Linked DNA regions of Homo sapiens: region 2 is linked to region 1. Evidence: fine-mapped expression QTL. A gene starts in region 1. The other region holds a variant in brackets. All regions are shown on one strand. Distances are from middle to middle.

The links. PIP is the estimated chance that this variant, and not a neighbour inherited with it, causes the effect.
Region 2: its variant is the best candidate, but not a certain one, in a credible set for the expression of PMP22 in whole blood (INTERVAL, PIP 0.77).

What each region holds. Positions count from the first base shown.
Region 1 is chr17:15,261,936-15,271,940 of GRCh38, reverse strand. It overlaps PMP22 (peripheral myelin protein 22), which reads left to right and starts at 6,615. Exons shown (of 5, transcript NM_000304.4): 1 at 6,615-6,787. LOC124903931 (a long non-coding RNA gene) reads right to left here. Exons shown (of 2, transcript XR_007065632.1): 2 at 6,032-6,485.
Region 2 is chr17:15,485,573-15,495,577 of GRCh38, reverse strand. All of the region lies in intron 4 of TVP23C-CDRT4 (TVP23C-CDRT4 readthrough), which reads left to right. Among named protein-coding and RNA genes, the nearest start is that of CDRT3, 20 kb to the right of the region's middle. RefSeq lists enhancers at 4,449-4,743, 4,033-5,232. The variant G/A (reference allele first, on the strand shown) is at 5,774.

The DNA.
Region 1 (10,005 bases):
ACCACATGACCTCAGACCACATCCACCCAGCTCCTTACTCAGAATCACAGCAACACACTTCTTTGGCATTTCTCTTCAATGTTGGCTTCTATGGATGTTTTCTGTTCCCTCTTCGCTGGCCTGGAGTCCTTAAGCCTCTACCTCCTGCCTTCAAATCTGCCTTTTCATTTCCTGAAGTGACTGTCGTCAGCTCGCCTCCATGGTTAGAGACTAGAATCGTGGAGCCCAATGTTTCCAACAGTGAGGTCCGTGGAACCTAAGTCTTGGAGGTAACCTGGGAATAAAAATTCCATGGTCCCATACATTTAGAAAATGCTTTGTAATCGTGTTTCCTCCTAGCGATTCCCAAGACACAGTTGCAGGTTAAATGATCCAAGATTAGACAGGAGTAAAGCAGGAGAGCATGGGGACTGTCCCCTGGGGAGGATGGGCAGAAACATTTTGCTGGGATGAGGAATTCGAAAATGACCTGGGGTCTCCCAATAATCAAGGAGCTCACAAAATCATAGAATTCAGATAGTCAAGTGATTGCGGTTTCATTATGGTTTCACATTGTGAGGCTGGAACGTGAGAGAGAGAGAGGGAAAAAAAATGGAAGGGGATAGAGAGAGGTAAAGGGAGGGAGGGTAGGGAAAGCAAGAGGGAGAGGGATTCTGAGAAAGAAGGCAATGCAGTAGGTGATAGACCATTGGAAACCATGAGAGTTTTCTCCCTCGGTCAAATTGACCATAAATGTCAGTGCAGTTTTACTCATCTGAACCACATGTCTGACCATGCTCTTGCTGTGGGTTGGAGGGATTCTCATATTTAAAGTCACATAACTAAACCAATGAACTGTTGGCTCATTCAGGCTCCCTCAAGACCAAGAAACTTCAAAACCACTTCTCTTTTTTCCTTTTATTTTTCTTAATCTCCCAATGTATTTAAATAAGTATAAGGTACAGTTATTAAACTCATGGTCTATATAAATGCCTGCATTTTACCATCAACATTGTAAGATGCACAGCTTATTCCAATACTGCCATACCACCTCTGTGCCTGGAGTGACTCCACTTGGGGTCAGTGCAAAAGATGAAGCAAGACCTGGCTCGTGGCCCTCCCAGTGCCTCCCTGGGGTTGACGCAGTGTGCGTTTCCTACACCGAAGTTACAGAGTCACAGACTCCTTATGATGGAGGCACAAGGCTGAGATGTGCGATCGCTCGTCACAATGAATCCTGTTATGTGTTCAGCTCCATGCAGTTATTTCTCCCATTTAATGTTAGAACTTGGAGACACAGTGTTGAACAAATTCTGTCATATTGCATTCTTCAGTCTTCGCATTCTTTCAGTTTTACTTTCATTTTTGTCACAGTGGTACTCAAAGACTGTACATTTGGTGGCATTTAGTGGTCAAGAACCTGGGGTCTTGGCTTCAAGTGGTCAAAGTTTATATATTGGCTCCACCATTTTCTCACTGTGTGGGTGTCTTGGGGGTCACGGCAGTTCTCCCCTCGTGGGATTGTTGGAGGTATTTAATGAGAGGGTTAGCACAGTGCCTGGCACATAGCCAGTGCTCAACAAATTATAGGTGTGCTATTTTGTATCCATCACGAATGGCTCTTCATTTCATTAAACATTCTTCTTGGACATTATTTTTTAATACTTACATAATATTTCATCTTATGACTGTACCAAAAGTTACTCAATCATTCCTCTAGTCTTTGAGATTTAGGATGTTCACACTTTTCTTTGTTATAAAACATATCACCTTTATTTGGCTATGAATACCATTATAGCCAAATTTTTGCATATCCATGACTTTCTAAAGATACATTTCTAGAATTTTAATTTCTGAGCCCAAAATTTAAAGTAAAACAATTATATGAGGCCCAGGCTTACCACTGAAACCCTCTAGATTAGATATTTCCTAGTCTAACAATGAAGAGTAAACATTCTTGAAGTTTTGCCCGGCTTTCCCTTGAACGTCTCGAAAGGATTTGACCTTTGTCTGTGAACTTCCCTGGATTAGCTGAGGTTTCACACTTGATAAGTGGTGCAGGAACTCAGAGATGAAGAAAACATCTGGTCTCCAGTTCATTTTAAGTACAACTGGTGCTCCCTAGGCTCAGAAGTGCACACAGAATGATGCATTGTGGGGACTATGATGCGTCGTGGGGCTTGTCCTCCCAGGGTCCCATCCAGGACCGTTTGCGTTCACCTCGTCCTTGCTGGAGATTAATGCTCCATTTCTTGGTGTGGCTTCGACTGCCTGAAGCAGGCATTTCCTTGGGTTACATGGGCCTTCCTGTGCACCTCTCTCAATAAGGACAATCTCTCACATCAAGCCAAGGCTGCTTTTCTCGACATTTCTATGCCTGGTCTGCAGTGGCCTAGAAAATCCCTGCATTCCTCCCCATTCCGTCCATTCCCGTGTGGCAAGATTGCTCTGCTTCCCCATTTTATTTGAACCTATGCCCTACTGGAGCAGAAGCATTTTCACTTAGGAGTAAACAGTCTTAGAAAAGTTTTAGAGTTTGCAATCCCAAGTACACATCCATTTCTGACTCTTGCTTAAATTGCTCCCCAATCCTCTAGCTGCTAACTCATGAGATGTCAGAGAAAAGACTGCTTTCCCCCCTCCACTTGCATCTGTGGAATCTGGCTTTCCTAAGCAACAATGCATTTGTGAACAGAGAATCCTTTGTACTTGGTCTGGTCCCACTGCCACAACATAATAATTCTGTGACTTCTCTCTCCCACAGGTGAAGGAGTTAATATACAATTTACTCCAAGATACCTTTCTATATTTTAAAGATGTCATTTAGGGAACAGTCCTGTGCCAATGTGAGTTTTTTTTTGTGTGTGTCTTTATGTTGCTTTCTGACTGCGTCTGTGTTGTTCATAAAGAATATCTTCTAGGGATTGGGACCTGTCATAATTTCAAACTTGCTTATTTGTAGAAGATTCTGTCACAGAAGTCAAACTGGCTCCTTCTGTTCCTTTTCTTCTCCCTTCTCCTTCTCTTCCCTCCCCTCTTCCTATCTATATCTCCCTCCCTCCCTCTCTCCTTCCATCTTTCCTTCCTTCCTTCCTTCCTCCCTCCCTCCCTCTTTCCTTCCTTCCTTCCTTCCTTCCCCTCTGCCTTCTTTCCCTGCCTTGCTTGTTCTTTCAACAAGCTGCTCTCACTCGACATCAAAACAGTCTAGCTGAGTCTAGATGAGGCAGGACTGACTTTTGAGGACCCTTCCAGGCCAGCTGTGTCCAGGGCTGGCCAAGAACTCCCACACAGGCTGCTGGCTATGAGGACACAGGAAAGACTTCATTCTTAGTGTAAACACTTTTCAGATATTGACTGAGCACCTGGTGGGATAGATGCTGCAACAACAACTTCATCACCTGGACAAACACCAAATTCAGACTTGCCTCTGGTTTTCTCTCTGGGGAGCCTGCACAGTGAAAAAATTACAGGTTTGGGAGTCAGAGGAATGGACTTTTTTAAGCCCCAGCCCTGGCATTCACTAGCTAGTCCCTGGAGGAAACACTGTAAATTTTCCAAGCCTCAGTTTCTTCACATAGAAAATGATTATAATGATTCCTCTTAAATAAGATACTGCCATATGTTAACAGCATTTTATTAGCTATAAAGTGCGGAAGGGTTTCCTCCCTCTTCAAGAGTCTGCTGGGATTCCACTGTCATGGACAACATTTCATTCTTATGAAATTAAAATCTCACCTACAGGCAGGATTCTGCCAGTGCTTATGCTATACAGACATATGGAATGCAAATGTCCTCGGAGGAGCACACAGCCTTGTTGGCAGGATGAGACAGGATTCTTGAAAGCTGTACTAAATGTGACTGGTGCTGAAAAAAAAATGGATGTCTTAGGATATGTTCTTGCTTTTTAATGGAAAAAGAAACGTGAATGCATAAATATGTATAATGTGAGAATATCTTTCATACAAATAGGACATTAAATGATAGTGTCTATGGAAGCATGATGAGAAGATATGCTAGGAACGTGCTGGGCACAATTAGGGGCACGGTAGAATGTGAGATAGTCCAGGCTGTGAGTACGGGATCTGTAGCCAGAATGCCTGGTTGGAATCCAGCCTCTGTCATTTCTTTGCAGTGTGTCTTGAGAAAGTGACTGAACATCTCGCTGTGCCTCAGTTTCTCCCTCTTCTAAAAGAGGATGATGGGGTGCCTATTTCATACGGTTGTGAGGATTAAGTGATTTGATGCATATAAAATATTCAAGATGGTGCCTGGCATATGCTAAACACGAAGTAAATATAACCTATTATCATCATTATCAAGGACTTGCGGATAACTGATGCTACTGAGCCGATGGAGCGTGGTGTAGCAGAACAGCTCAGGTGCTAGAAATAGCCAGTCTCATTGACTCAACTGTGTTTCCTCAGAGAATCCCGATTCTCATTTTTCCTATCTGTAAATGGAAGGGAGGATAGCAAATAATAATAAATGTTATTTGGTGACTATTCTATGTGTTTATTTTGCAAGAGGCTCAGTGGGATATAGCCTACAGCTTTGCAGAGACATTGCTCAACACAGATGCATGGGATAGGGGTCCCATTTGGCTGAGAAAAGGTTATTGGAAATGGGAGACGAGGAAGGAGTTTTCCTCACCTGACTCTGGGAAGGGAAGAGAGTCTGGCCCAGATGGGTAAAGACAAGTGTGTTGGCATCTGGTAGACAGGGCCAGTGGCACACAACAGTGAACAGCTCTACTGCTGACAGCCAACAGGGACTTCGGGGTTTGGCTGCTGGAGATGGAGGACCTGGGCAAAAGAGACGTGAGGCCAAGAGAGCAGGTCTCAGAATGTGGAGCTCATGGAAGGAGAGAGGGAGGGCTAATCAGACTGCTCCTATCTGGCCAGAAGCCATGCCCCACACTCACCAGGCCCTACCCCTTTTCCTCTGAATCTTTAGCTCTTAGATCAGAAATAATCTTACGTGTCTTCAGGCTTGATCCTGGCCTGACGGACAGCAGCCTCTGTCGTGTAGCCTTTGGAGCTGATCATGGCAGTACCCAGGAAAAGACTGTCTGGAGAGGCTGCAAAAACCATGCTCACTGTTCCCAGTCCCCGTACAGACCATGTCAGAGGAGGACTGAGGGAGGCTCCTCTCTCTCTCTCTCTGTCACACACACGCACACGCGCACACACACACACACAGATACACGCGCACACACACACACCGTTTTGCCTGGCAGAACAGACTTATAACTTGCATAATACTGCAGCAGCCCACACTGTACCTCATCTCCATTTGGGTTCCACAACAGAAGGGAGCTGGAAGGAAATCAGCGACAATCTAACTCCACATGACAACCTGGCTGGACAACGAAACATCCAGCGGGGAGAAAGACACTGGAAATTACCCATACCTGAGCCCCATCCCAAAACACCTGAGTCAGCTTCTCTGACCATGGCCCAGGCTAGGTCATTTGCAAAGCTCTTGAGTGATTCTAAAGAACCACTGCTGTGAAAAATAAAAATGATTTCAGCAAAGAGAGAAAGGTGAAACTATTTTATTGGCACTGGCTGTGATGCTGGCTGTGAGCAGATGCTGGCTGTGGGCAGAACAGGGGAGAGGGCCATTGAGAGGCCCTTGTGACTGGAGAGTCCAATCAAACGTAAAGTGTGTGACAGGGAGGGACTCCTCCAAATTCTGCAGGTCTCTCCAGACTGGGGATCCCTAACACAAGAGGAAGTCTTATGCCCCAAGTGCCAGAATTCCAGGAAACTCATGCAATGAAACCAGTCCTCTTGTGTCAGAGTTTGCAGCTAGAAGCGGTTCAAGGGATGGAGGACTCTCTGGGAGCTGGAGTGGTACGCTGCAAAGAACCTAAATATGCCATAACTTCCTTTACTTCCCTCTCCAAGAATTTCCAATTGCTCTTCCAGCCTATTCTGCCTGACAGGTTAGAAAGTTTTCAATAGTTTTCAATAGAGGTTCGTTTACTTGCATTGAATTATCTCATGAAGGTCAGCTTGATTCGGGCACATTAAAGACAGAGTCGGAAGAACACATTTCCCTAAGTTTTATTCTAATGTACAACACATGTGATCATTTGCGATGGGGTCTAGGCAGACAAGGCAGGTAACAGGGAGTCCTTCCAACCAGGGGTTGGAACAAAGGAGGCTTGATTTGGTGACTCTTGAGACATTTGGCTCACTGCTGTGATGCTGTGAGAGATTAGCTGTGCAATGTTTGGGCTCCTTAAAAGGAAGTTTATTTAAAATAAAACTTACCTGCACGTATGTAACACTGTAGACACAGATCCTTCCCACAGTATATTTAATCTCTGCAGAATTCACTGGGAGGGGAGGGGAGCCAGTGGGACCTCTTGGCTATTACACAGGTTGGCACTTCCAGAGAGAACAGTCTTGGCATCACAGGCTTCAGGCATACTCAAAGCTCTTCTCCCTTCTGATTCCAGTTTCTCCATGCCCTGCAGGGCCTCTTGGGATTATTGTATTCTGGAAAGCAAACAAAGTTGGACACTGTCTCTTTAAATAATAGAGGCTGAGAACCTCTCAGGCCACCATGACATATCCCAGCATTGGACCAGCCCCTGAATAAACTGGAAAGACGCCTGGTCTGGCTTCAGTTACAGGGAGCACCACCAGGGAACATCTCGGGGAGCCTGGTTGGAAGCTGCAGGCTTAGTCTGTCGGCTGCGGGTCTCTGACTGCCCTGTGGGGAGGGTCTTGCCTTAACATCCCTTGCATTTGGCTGCAAAGAAATCTGCTTGGAAGAAGGGGTTACGCTGTTTGGCCGGGTGAGTTTTATTGGCAAACTGTGCCTCTGGGTGATGTGTGCCTATGCTTTACAAGAATTGCCTAATTTCCCACCCCCTGCAAGCCGCAAATGAAAAGGATTGCAGGAGAGATGGTGCATTTGTGTTGGAATTGACTGGAGATTCAGAGGGCTTTTTATATCCTTGGTTAAAAGGTGGATATATACTCTGGCTGGGGAGGTGGGGGGCCATCTGAGAGCATCTAGAAACCCTAATGCATCCAGATTGAAAGGAAGAAAGGAATCTAGATGCTTTTTCCCCCATGGAAAATAGCTGTGCACACACAGCTGGCAGGTGGCCTTGGTAAGCAGGTTAGGGAGAAGCTGCCACCTGTGGCAGAGCCTTGGCCAGCCGGGCTCTGGGTGTGGCAAGCCTGGTCAGCAGGCACTGAGTAGCACTTCCTCTGCCACCATTGAGAACCAGGCAGGAGGCCAGAGGCAGTGAGGGACAGATGGGTTGGGTTTACCTGTCTGGCAGTATATGGTGTGGCTGTGACCTGGGTGGTTATTGATTAAACTATTGGGTTCAAAAGAAAGGAAGAAGCGAGCTGTAGCACCCAATATATGCACTTTTCTGTATGTGTATTAGACTTTATTAAAAAGTTTATTTGAAAATCACAAAGGAAGGGAAAGAAAACCCTGAGTTAGATATGCTCATATTTCTAAAGTGCTTACTTAGAACAGTCCTGAGTATGTTGTGATCACATAAGTGTTGGTTAAATAAATAAATGTCCAAATGGCATAAAACAAAGTAATAATTTCTAGAGCAAATCTAACTTATAAAATGACCTGTGGAGGAAAGAAAACACTGCCATGTCTTTAGACTTTTTTTTCTACTTGCATATGCACTTTCATTTATAAATCTTTATCTATCTATCTATATCTATCTATCTATCTATCTATCTACCTACCTACCTACCTACCTATCAGAGTTACAAGCTACTTTAGTGCAGAGGTGGTCAGGTCTTCCCTGAAAGGTTGATGTGAGAGTTAAATGTGATATAATAATAGTGGTGGCAATTTGGGCACTGGGCCCTTATTATGTTGCAGACACGATGTTAACTGCTTTGTACATATTGTCTCCTTCAATCACCACCATAAACCTTTAAAGCAGGCATTACTATTTCCTTTTGCACCTGAGAAAACTGAAGCTCAGTGAACTTGAGAAATTGCCCAAATTCACAACAAAAGTAAGCAGGGTGATTAGGTTTGTTGGAGCCCAGAGCCAGAGTGCCTAACCACTGCACCATACTGCCTCTCACAGACCATGCATATAAAGTCCAGGCAAAGTGCTTGGCATATAACGGGCACTGTAAATGCAGTGTTTACAAGTACACTTCATTTTAATCTGATAACACGATAGTTTTAAAAAGATCATTGTTTGAAGATCTTTTTCAAATTTATTTTTACTTACCGTAAGAATATACAATTAGCTAAAATAGCAGCTCCTTTCAAATCGTAAAATAATATAGAATTATTTGAATCATTGAGAGTGATGAGCTTCTATGACACAGTACACTAGAGGTAGGGAAGTGTGTGTGTGTGTGTGTGTGCGCGCGCGTGCGTGAACTGCTGCATTTTCAGGCAGAAACCTTTAACATCCACATTCCTGCTCCCTGTCCCGTGCCTCAAGGCTGGCCTGCGCACGGGAGTCTCAGTTGGGCGCGCCTCTGCCAAGCCGAGACTGAAGGGGGCTAGCCTCTCTCCCTGTAACGCTGGGCGGGCCACGTTAGGAGGCTATGAATCAGCTGATTTCCTTGGCTGCTCCAACCCCACCTCAAATGGCCACCTCGCACCCGCCCGCCAAACCCCATGGCCAGGACTCCAGCCAAGGCTGACAGCCAAGCCCGACTGCTGCAGGAACACTTTGCCTAGAGCTTATTCGGTGGTAGTCTGGTTTTGCCTAGGCTAGGAGGAGCCCAATCCCAGACCATGCTATCCAGTAGTCGGCCGGACTTTTCTTCCCCTAATTCGCACCCAAGAGGAGCCCGCTAGATCAATCCCCGCCAATCCTAGGAAGCTGGCATGCTTCGTAGGTGCAGACAGTAATAGCGGGGACCGGCGCGGGGCAGGTGTGTCCGGCTAAGACGCCAGGACAGGGCAGGGGCTCCAGGACCCGAGAGGAGAGGGACTTCTTCCAGCGCTCAAGCGCCCGCTGCCCTCTATTAGTGGGAAAGGAATCCAGCCTCAGCCCCGCGCGGGCGCGGTCGGCGTCGGCGGGCCCAGAAGCCCAGCCCTGGGCATCCGCTGAGCTACATTTGGCTGGGTCTTCCCAGAGTGGGCTGAGGAGCCAGTTTCTCGGTCAACACTAGGTCTCCACGGGGCCAGGGGAGAAGGGAGGTGGGAGGTGAGAAAGCTCAGCCGCCTCTGGTTTCGAGTAAAAGTCGCCGCGGTTTTGCAGGGACCGACTTTTTCTTGAGGCGCATTTAAGGCCAAGTGACTGTCTCCTGCCCTCCCTCTCTCCTGCCCCCTCTCCTCCCTGAGTCCCGCCCTCCCGCACACGCTGACCCAGGGACACACCCTACTGCAGCGACGCAAACAGGGCGTTGTTCCCGTTAAAGGGGAACGCCAGGAGCCTCCCACTGCCCCCTTGCTTCGCGCGCGCGCAGCCCCGCAGCGCAGCTTTGGCGGCGCCAGCAGCGGAGCCAACGCACCCGAGTTTGTGTTTGAGGCCACCCTGAGGATCGGGACAGCTGTTCCTTTGGGCTGTAAGTGATTTGGTGGGGAGAGTGAAGGAGATGGAGGAGAAATGTGGGCATCTTCCAGTGAGGGTGCCAGAAAGCGCAGCGCAGGCGCGGGGCTTTGGCCAGCTCCCTGGGGCTTCTGTTTAGGGGCACAGGGTCCCCTGTGTGTCCTGTTTCCCTCCAATGGGTCTTGGAGTAATACAACGAGGAGAGCCTTTATGGTCTATAAGACCTTACAGGGCAAGGGTGATGGTGCTGGTGTCTGGATAGCGGATAAGGGCGGCCCAGTTCTCGCCTTGCTGAAGAGGCGTTGACTCTGGGACACACTGGCAAAACAGTCCCTGTGGCGGACATCCCGAGAGTGTTGGACTCCTGTGGTTCCCCAGTTCCCAGCCTCCTGCCATCGGCTTAATTCAAACCCTCTGGGAGTCATCAGAAATCCTTGTTTATTTCTTCCAGTGCATTCCAGAGTTTCTTTGAATGTGATGCTTGTGGAGAGGAACAGAGGGGCCTGGGA
Region 2 (10,005 bases), 220 kb before region 1:
TCCCAGTGGGAATGTTGCTTTTGCCTTGAAAAATCCATCTTCAAAATATCAATGTGATATATCACCCACGTTAAGCTAACTTGAAGTGGTAAAAATGGCCTTTCCTGACATAGCTTTCATCAAGAAAAAAAAATTAACTTGAGTTCTCCTTTCAAAACCCCAAGTAAGTACTTTTCCCTTTGAGTGACTGCATTCTTCTGAGTGGGAAAGGAGAATCGTGAACTTGGGCTCATTTCTTCGCAAGAGAAGTTTAAAAGATGAACTTTCAGTGACCACAATGTGACCATATCCCCAGTTTTCATGATTTATTTCGACAGTCAGTTGTTGGCCTAACCTCTGCTAATCAAGCAGGCTGTACCAATATCTAGCTTTTCATCATATGGAGGGCAAGATGCCTTCTGAGCTTCATGAATCAGAAAGTAATCATTATCTTAGCTACAACAACATCTCTTCTTCTACAGCATCAATTTTAAAAGAACAAAAAGTCTTCAAGACCTTCATTTATCATTTTCCCTCCTCCTCTCCTCCACCCCCCCCATCCCCTCCTCTGTCTCTCCTCATACAGCTGGTTCATGTTCTGTGTATTAGTGGTTGAGATCAGAGTTTCTCAACTTCAGCACCACTGACATTTTGGGTCAGAAAATTCTTTTTGGGGGTTGGCTTTTTCACTGTAGGATTTTAGCAGATTTCCTGGCTTTGACACACAGACACCAGTAGCACTCTCTTGTCCCTCTTCCTCCTCAGCTGTAACAATGAAAAATACTTCTAGATTTAGCCAGATGTCCCCTGGGGGGCAAAATTGACCCCTGTTGAGAAGCACTGGCTTAGACAAATTACAGATGAAAACATCTGCAGTCACTGTCAGTAGTAAGTGCTCTTATACGTGGTATTACTGATATTATAGTATCCAACAATATCATCTGATAAAGGAATTTGCCTATTAATAAATTAGAATAAAAGCCAACTGCTTTATGCTAAGCTCAACATTTATCATGGAGTCTCTTTTTCCAGCATCTTACAAACAGTGTGTACTGTTTTTGCTACTTGGGTATAATTTAGAAGATGTGTCTATATTTTGGTTTCTTCTCTTAGTGACCAAATTAATGAGCTTTTTTCTTGGTAAGTATTATTTTGCACTTGTTCTACAGAAAATTAATTGACTTCCCAGGGAGTGGTTTAATATAATTTCTTTCTTTTCTTTTCTTTTCTTTTCTTTTTTTTTTTTTTTTGGAGACGGAGTCTTGCTCTGTTGCCCAGGCTGGAGTGCAGTGGCATGATCTCGGCTCACTGCAAGCTCCGCCTCCTGGGTTCACGCCATTCTCCTGCCTCAGCCTCCCGAGTAGCTGGGACTACAGGCGCCCACCACCACTCTGTATTTTTAGTAGAGATGGGGTTTCAACATGTTAGCCAGAATGGTCTCGATCTCCTGACCTCGTGATCCGCCCTCCTCAGCCTCCCAAAGTGCTGGGATTACAGGCGTGAGCGAGACTCTGTCTCCAGAAAAAAAAAAAAAAAGGACTACTGGGAACACACTGTTTGCATACGCTTTTCAAATATGTGAAAATGTAGTGAATAATTGGACTTGTTACCTTTTCTTTGGATAGCACTATCTTGCCCAGTGTGGGCTGCTGTAACAAGATGTGGGTTAAACAACAGACATTCATTTCTTGCAGTTCTGAAAGATGGGAAGGCAGAGATCAGTGTCTGGTGAAGGCCCTCTGCCTGGCTTGCAGATGGCCAGGCATCTGCAGAGGGAGAGAGAGAGAGGAAGGGAGGGAGAGAGAGAGGAGGGAGGGAGAGAAGAGGGAGTGAGAAAGGAAGGGAGGGAGGGAGAGAGAGAGGAAGGGAGGGAGGGAAAGAGGAAGAGAGGGAGAGAGAGAGGGAGAGGGGGAGGGAGAGAGGGAGGGAGAGAGGAAGGAAAAGAGGAAGAGGGGGTGGGTGAGGGAGAAAGGGAGGAGTAGGGGAGAGAGAGCAGGAGGATGGGAGAGAGAGGGAGGGAGGGAGAGAAGGGGAGTGAGCAAGCACACTTGCTCTGGTCTCTTTATCCCCTTATAAGGGCACTAATCCCCTTCATCAAGCTCCAGCCTCATGACCCAATGACCTCCTGAAGGCCCACCTCCTAATACCAGGAATGTTGGTGGTTTTCACACCCATGTAAGAAAGGCTAAGTTAGTGCTGTTAACATTAATTTAGATGAGAATGACAGACCCCAAGATAGACAGTACTGCAAATGCCTATGAGTTCCTTCTCCAGGCTACACAGCAGGCTCCCTGAGGGCAGGAGCAGGTTTCTGGATCCCTGTGAGTCTCCCCAATGGACTCCCAGCACAGGGCTCTGTCCCAAAGCGGACAAAGCTCTTGGCATGACAGGGTGAGACTGCGTGGCGTTTCTGTTCTGGCTGCCTGTGCCGCTGGAGATTCACATTCACCAAAGAGTGAAGCCCAGAGTTGAAATGCAGACAGACAGGTCCACAATGGCCAGGCCCTGTGGGGTTTAGCTGCACAAATCCATTCTTTTGACAAAGATTGGTGCTCCCAGGGCGTAGCACAGCTCAGCAATGGAAGCTGACCCCCCGCGGTGGCCCTGGCAGCAGCCTGGGGCAGGCTGTGCATGCCATGCCTTGCTCTCTGGGAGGGCACAAGGCTGTGCTTTCTGTTCAGCAGCTGTTCCTCTTCCAGCTGATTCGCTTCTAACCTAGAACCAGGCTTGGACTAGGGGGCAGGGGGCAGGTAGTCTGCTCCTTCCTGTGACCAGTCTCTAAGAACACACCTGTCTTCATGTCCCTTGGCCCTGCTTGCTCTCTGATCAGCCCAAGACTTCACCCACGTTCACGTCCATTTCTCTTTGGGAGTCTGGGGGTCCTTCTGTGGGGGGCTTGAGCATCGCTGCTCCTTTGGGTGACTCCCCATTGCCCTGCCGCAGAAGGAGCAGGATTGTAATTGATGGTTTTCCATCTGGAGCACAGGTACGTCTTGGGGAAATGGGGATGTGAAAAATAGAAGTAGGCTCATTTAAGAACTATTTTGTTTTATGTCCATTTTTGAAAAGTCTTACTGAAGGGTGCACAGCATTGGTTAGGAGGATGGTTTGGGTGTGGTTCTAGGGGACAACCTGCTGCTGGGAGACCTGGGTGGCAGGAACAGCAGCTGTAGTGATAGTGAGATGATGATGATGATGATGACGATGATGACGATGATGATGATGACGATGATGATGATGGCAATGTAACATCTATTGCACACCTACTGTTTCAAAATCGAGTAAATATACTCATTAGTTCCCCACAATCCTACTGTCATCCTTGTTTGACAATTGAGGAAATTGAGACCTGAGAGGTTGAGAGGCTTGTCCAATGTCATGGGCTATGAAGTCAAGATACCAGGTATTACTCCTGGCTACGGGACCTTAGAGAAGATGCTCAAGGTGGTGGTCTCCATAGTTGAGAAATCAAAGATGGATTGGTTGACTCCCAGATGTTTTTTTTTTTCTCTAGCAAATGTTAACAAGTTTAGCCCAAGCTGCCTCCTTACATATTTTAAGTTCCACCTAAACATTCCGCTGTGCAGATGATAACCTAACTGGATGTGTACAGAGACTGTAACCGAGGCTTGTAGCCACTAGCCCAGTGTCAGCCCATCAGAGCAGCTGAGTGTCAGCTAATCACAGGCGATCAACTGCTCAAACTGTGTTCAAATCAGGCAGACACGGAGCCGTAAGCAGCCTAGCTGTTTCTGTTTTCTGTAGATCACTTTCTTTTTCTGTCTATAAATCCTCTCCGACCATGCACCAGAGTCACTGTGGGTGTGCTGAGTCTGTCTAATTCTTGAATAATTTTTTGCTCAATTAACTCTATTAAATTTATCTAACGTGTTTTTTTTAAACACAAATATTCTCTTATAATCTCTGAAAGTCCTTTTATTTAGGCCAAACCCTAAAAAATATGCGTGAAGTGGAATCTTCTCTCTGTGCTTCTTCCCTTCCCACGACTCTCACCAGTCTTACTCCAGCCCCTGAAGGGAACCAGTGCCTTTGCATAATTTACTGTTATTTTTGCTTCCATAAGACGTTTCTTGAATCCTTCCCTTATACCAAGGAGTAAATGCATGACAAAATGTTGGAGCATTTCTTTTCTATGTAATGATGAAATGACAGGCAGCAGCCAGCAGGTAGTAGCAAATAAATGTCTAGCATCATTCCAGTTTTAAAAAGTCTGTTTTTCCAAAAGTTTCCCATCCTGCCCCCATCCCCAGTTAAAAGTATGAGAACAGTAAGGCCTAGAAAGGGGCCTCAACCATGATTATGAGTTGTCTGTAAACCTGGACCAGAGTTCAGGTCTCCGGATCCTCCATCAGGAAATCACAGGGTGGGGTGAGTAACATGAAGCCGGCTTCCACTCTGGGATGTCAGATTCCTGGCATGGGGTGATGCAGGGGGCTTGGAACATTCCAGAGGAAACAAAAGCGAGATGAGCAGAGACAAAGAGCTGTGAACACCAGGTTCAAAATGCATGAGTGAGGGTGTTGGAAAACTTCCCAGGGGTGGTGGCTGCCCAAGTCAAAGGACACCAACAGGAAATGCAAAGTCCCAGGGTCCCAGGGCTAGCAGGAAGCTTTGCCTCCAGGCTGTGGTGCTTGCTGGGCCTCTATGCTTCGAAGAGCCGGCCCGAGGTGACTCAGATTTCCTGAGAAGCCTCTTATCACAGCCAGCACAGACATCTGTGCCTTTCCTCGCCTGAGATGTCACCAGCTCAGGGCCACTCCCTGCCCCAGCCAGATCAATGGGCCTTTCACGGCTTCTGAGGGTGGATCCTAGGAGTGCCCCTGTGACGAATGCTCAGATGACTGCCTCTCTAGGATTTCTGTTTGTTTCTGCTTCGCAGTCTTCCCTCCACCCAGAAGCTCCCGAATGTCCAGGAAGAATTGACTAATTCTCTCCATGAGTTTCTTGCCCACAGGACGAATGGAGCCATTGCTGTAACAACCTTATTTTCCACTAAGTCAGAATAAGAGACCTGGACAGAAAGAGAGTAATGGCTGAGGCACAAGGAGCGAGTATTTTAAATCAGGCTTATGAATGTGCTCTGTGGATACGGTTTGCCCATAGGGAGGTGGTTTTGGGGGTTGCGAATCATACTCAAGCTGTCCCTGACCGACTCACCAGTATTCTACAAACTTACTACAAACCTCTCAAAGGACCATCTTGGAAGACACTAGCAAGGGCGTGAACAATCCCCTCTGACGTTGCTGGCTGGTGGTGGAGGCCACGGAGCCTCCCTGTGTGAGACTGTACTATGTGGTCACTAGAACGTTTTGAAAGACAGTTCTCTGCAGGCCCGGCACCGTGGCTCACGTCTGTAATCCCAGCATTTTGGGAGGCTGAGGCGGGTGGATCACGAGGTCAAGAGATCGAGATCACCCTGGCCAACATGGTGAAACCCTGTCTCTACTAAAAATACAAAAATTAGCCGGGCGTGGTGGCGGGCACCTGTAGTCCTAGCTACTCAGGAGGCTGAGGCAGGAGAATGGCGTGAACCCGGGAGGCGGAGCTTGCAGTGAGCTGAGATTGCGCAACTACACTTCAGCCTGGCGATAGAGCGAGACTCCATCTCAAAAAAAAAAAAAAAAAAAAAGAAAAGGAAAAAGAAAGACAGTTCTCTGCAAATAGATACCCCAAGGGTTATTCTTTTTAAGTTGATCTTTAGTCTTAGAGCTGTGAAGGATCCCTAAAATTCTTCCACTTTAGAATTAAGGAACTAGAGTTTTGGAAGAGTTAG[G/A]TGATTGCCCTAAACCTTTATAATGTTAGTGACATTGTTAAAACTCAAATGTGAGCTTCCTGACTCTCAATCTAAGGTGCTTTCCACTCCCCCCAACCCCCACAGCAGATCGACCCTCTTCCCACAGAGAAGGCAGTTTTTATTTTCCAAACAGCTCCTTTGCCAACCAGTAAGTTAACAGAAGATGCCAGACTCAATATGACACCATCATAGCCAGGCCAGGTTAATTCCAGATACCGGGTCCTCTGATTTAAACACAGCCTTTTGGCTGGATGCAGTGGTTCACTCCTGTAATGTCAGTGCTTTGGGAGACTGAGGCAGGAGGATGGCTTGAGGCCAGGATTTTGAGACCAACGTGGGCAGCACAGTGAGACCCCCTCCTCTACAATTTTTTTTTTCTAATTAGCTAGAGTGAGCTGTGATTGTGCCACTGCACTCCAGCCTGGGCAACAGAACGAGACCCTGTCTTTAAAAAAAATACAAAAAAATTAGCTGGGCATGGTGGCGGGCGCCTGTAGTCCCAGCTACACGGGAGGCTGAGGCAGGAGAATGGCGTGAACCCAGGAGGCGGAGCTTGCAGTGAGCCAAGATTGTGCCACTGCACTCCAGCCTGGATGACAGAGTGAGACTCCGTCTCAAAAAAAAATAAAAATGAAAATAAAAATAAAAAATTAAATTAAAAAACAGCCTTTTAAAGAAATTCCAAAGATAAAGAGAACAGCTAAGAAAAAGACACCCAAGATCCTCACCCCTAGGTTTCCAGGGACTTTCTGTCCCTAGGCAGAGATACTGAGAAGGGGAAGCGGAAAGGATGCTGCATGAAGCTCCTCGCCGGCCTGCTTGCTGGGCTGCTCACCCCAAGAAGGGAGGCCCACCTGCCTCCAAAGTGGCAGTTCTGGGGCATAAACATTCCCAGAGCCCAGCATCACACCATGCCCTTGGGAAACCCATGTGGAGGAGGCCCCATTGCTGCACCCGAGGGGCTTGCAGTCTGGTGTTGAAGACACCAGTTGATGACAGCTGTTGATGACAGCTGGAGCAATGACCATGATAAGAGCTTTCATCATAGATGTGATGTTCTGTAGAAACACAGGGGAATGAGGGGCTGAGAGTAGAGAAGGATTCCTAGATAGGGCACAAGCAGGACTGTCTTGTGAAGCATGGGTAGAGTTTCTACAGGTGGAGGAGGGGAGAGGATTCCAGGAGCTTGGGCTGCTGCACAGCCAAGTGTCCTGTCTGATGGGGGCGACGTCCCTGGGACTTGTTCCTTGGAACTCGAGTCCTTGGAGATGAGCCAGTAAAAGAGGAGGTTCTGGGGTCAAATATGTCAGGGTGGGTATCCCACTATGTGGCCTTCTTAGAGTTCCACGATGTGCAAAGCTTACTGCAGGCTCTTAGCAAACCAAACCAAACACGACAAAACCTGTTTAACCATTTTTAAGCACAGGGAATTCTCTCTTTTTGTTTCAGAGAACATCTACTTTCATCTCGGGGAACCAGGACTCCACTGGATTCATTTTGACCTAGGGCAGTGGAAAGGGAGGGGAGGAAGAGCTTTGACTTTGGAAAAGCCAGCGCCTGCTAAGGAGTTCAGGATTGCATCCCACAGGCAGTGGCAGCAGTGGTAGGACTTTTCCCCCTTATATAACATTTTTTCCTGACTATCTAAGTAATGTATATTCATTGTACAAAACTTGCAAGGCCCCAAAATCTCCCCAAACAACAAACAACCTCAGAAAAGAAATCTGGTTGCCCATAAGACAGTGCACAGAAATAACCACATAACCACTGAAGATAGATGTCTATTGAGTGCCTTCTGGGTGCTGGCCTCTGTTCTAGGTCCTGTGGATTCGACAATGAATACATCCAGTGAAAATTCCCACCCTTGTGCAAGTTACCTTCTAGTTGGTGTTGCAGGTAATAGACAAAATGAATAAGTATCTAGTGGCCTAAATAATCAGAAGGATAATGAAGAAACATGAAGCAAGAAAGTGATTGGGGAGCGTATACCACCACCATGGGCAGATGTGGGCTGCCAGGAGGGCCGCTTTGGCAAGTGACAGGGTGATGTTTGGATGATGACTTGAGAGAGGTAAAGTAGTGACATATGTCATAGTAATGACATAGATAAATGGAGGGAGAAGGAGGAGCAGGTGCAAAGATTTGCGTCTGTAGTGTGCATGTTTGAGGCACAACAAGGAGGCTACAGTGGCTGGGGCAGGAGGAGCCAGGAGGGGGACAGTAGGAGAAGTGAAGATCAGAGATTGGGGAGAGAGCGTCGGTAGAATGTGAGGCTTTGAATGATGATGCTTCTGTCTGCATAGTAGGGGGAGCCAGGGCAGAGTTTTAAAATAGCTCTACAGTGGTCCCTCCCCTTATTGACAATTTTGCTTTCCAAAAGTTACCAGCTTGAGTTACCAGCCATCAACTGTGGTCCAAAAACATAAAATGGAAAATTCCAGAAATAATTCATATTTTAAATTGCACCTCTTAGCCACTTAGTAGCTGACTCAGTTATCAAATCCACTGTGGCAGCATTGCAGTGCATGTGTTCAAGGAACCCTTATTTTACTTAGTAATGGCCCCTGGGTGCAAGAGTGGCAGTGCTGGCAATTCAGATATGCCAAAGAGAAGTCATAAAGTGCTTCCTTCAAGTGAAAAGGTGAAAGTTCTCAATGACGGAAAAAAAAACATCTGCTGACGTTGTTAAGTTCTACAGTAAGAATGAACCTTCTTCAAGCCTGTAATCCCAGCACTTTGGGAGGCCGAGGTGGCAGATCACGAGTTCAAGAGATTGAGACCATCCTGGCCAACATGGTGAAACCCTGTCTCTACTAAAAATACAAAAACTAGCTAGGCATGGTGGCACGCACCGGTAATGCCAGCTACTCAGGAGGCTGAAGTAGGAGAATCACTTGAACCCGGGAGGTGGAGGTTGCAGTGAGCCGAGACTGCACCATTGCACTCCAGCCTGGGTGACAGAGCGAGACTCCATCTCAAAAAAAAAAAAAAAGAAAAGAAAAGAGAAAAGAAAGAAAAAGAACGAATGTTCTATCTGTGAAACTGTGAAATTGTGAATCAGGAAAAAGAAATTCCTACTAGTTTTGCTGTCGCAATTCAAACTGCAAAAGCTATGACCATGATGTATGACAAGTGCTTAGTTAAGATGGAAAAAGCATTAAATTTGTGGGTAGAAGACATGAACAGAAACATGTTCCACGTTCTGACTAATGGCAATCAGGTTTGGTGCTATCCACAGTTTCAGGAATCCACTGGCGGTCTTGGAATGTAATCCCTGTGGATAAGGCGGGACTACTTTATGGAGATAGAATTCATGTACCATAAATTCACTCATGGCCAGTGTACCATTCAGTGGTTGTTAGTATATTCATAGAATTGTGTAATTTCAGAAACTTCATCCCTATTAACAGTCACACCCCATTCCTCTCTCCCCTAACCCTTGACAACCATCAATGTACTTTCTGTCTGCAGATTTGCTTATGCTGGTCATATCACGTAAATGGACCACAGGATATAGGGTCTTCTGTGACTGGCTTATTTTATGCAGGATAATATCTTCAGGGTTCATCCACATTGGAACATGTATCCGTACCCGAGTTCTTTTTATTGACAAATATGATCTTGTTATATGGATGTACCACATCTGCATGCCCCTTGCAGGGTTTGAGCAGAGGAGTGGTGGGATCTGATTTTGATGGGACCACTATGCCTGCTGTGTGGAGATAAATGGAGATGGGCAAGTGTGGAACCAGGGAGGCTGGTTAGGAGGCTGCTGAAATGTAGTTGAGGATGTTTTGGGCCTGGGTGATAGCCGTGGAGGTGGTAAATGTTGGAGCACCCCAGGACTCAGATTGGTTTCTCTTTATCTATATATACTTCCTAGGTGACCTCACCCAGTCTCTAAGTTTCAAATATCTTCTTGCAATGGACTGAATGCTAGTGTGGTAGGAGTTATTAAGAAATTATTTTAGGGTGAGTGTGGTGGCTCACGCCTATAATCCTAGCACTTTGGGAGGCCTAGGTGGGCGGAGCACTTGAGGTCAGGAGTTGGAAACTAGCCTGGCCAACATGGTGAAACCCTGTCTCTACTAAAAACTTCATCTCTGCAGCCCAAATGCCCTCTAGGTGTTTGCTTATTCTTGCTTGACCTCTCTACTCACCAATTCTCTGGTAGACACTACTTTTCTAGGCTCCTTGGCTGGGCTATGAAT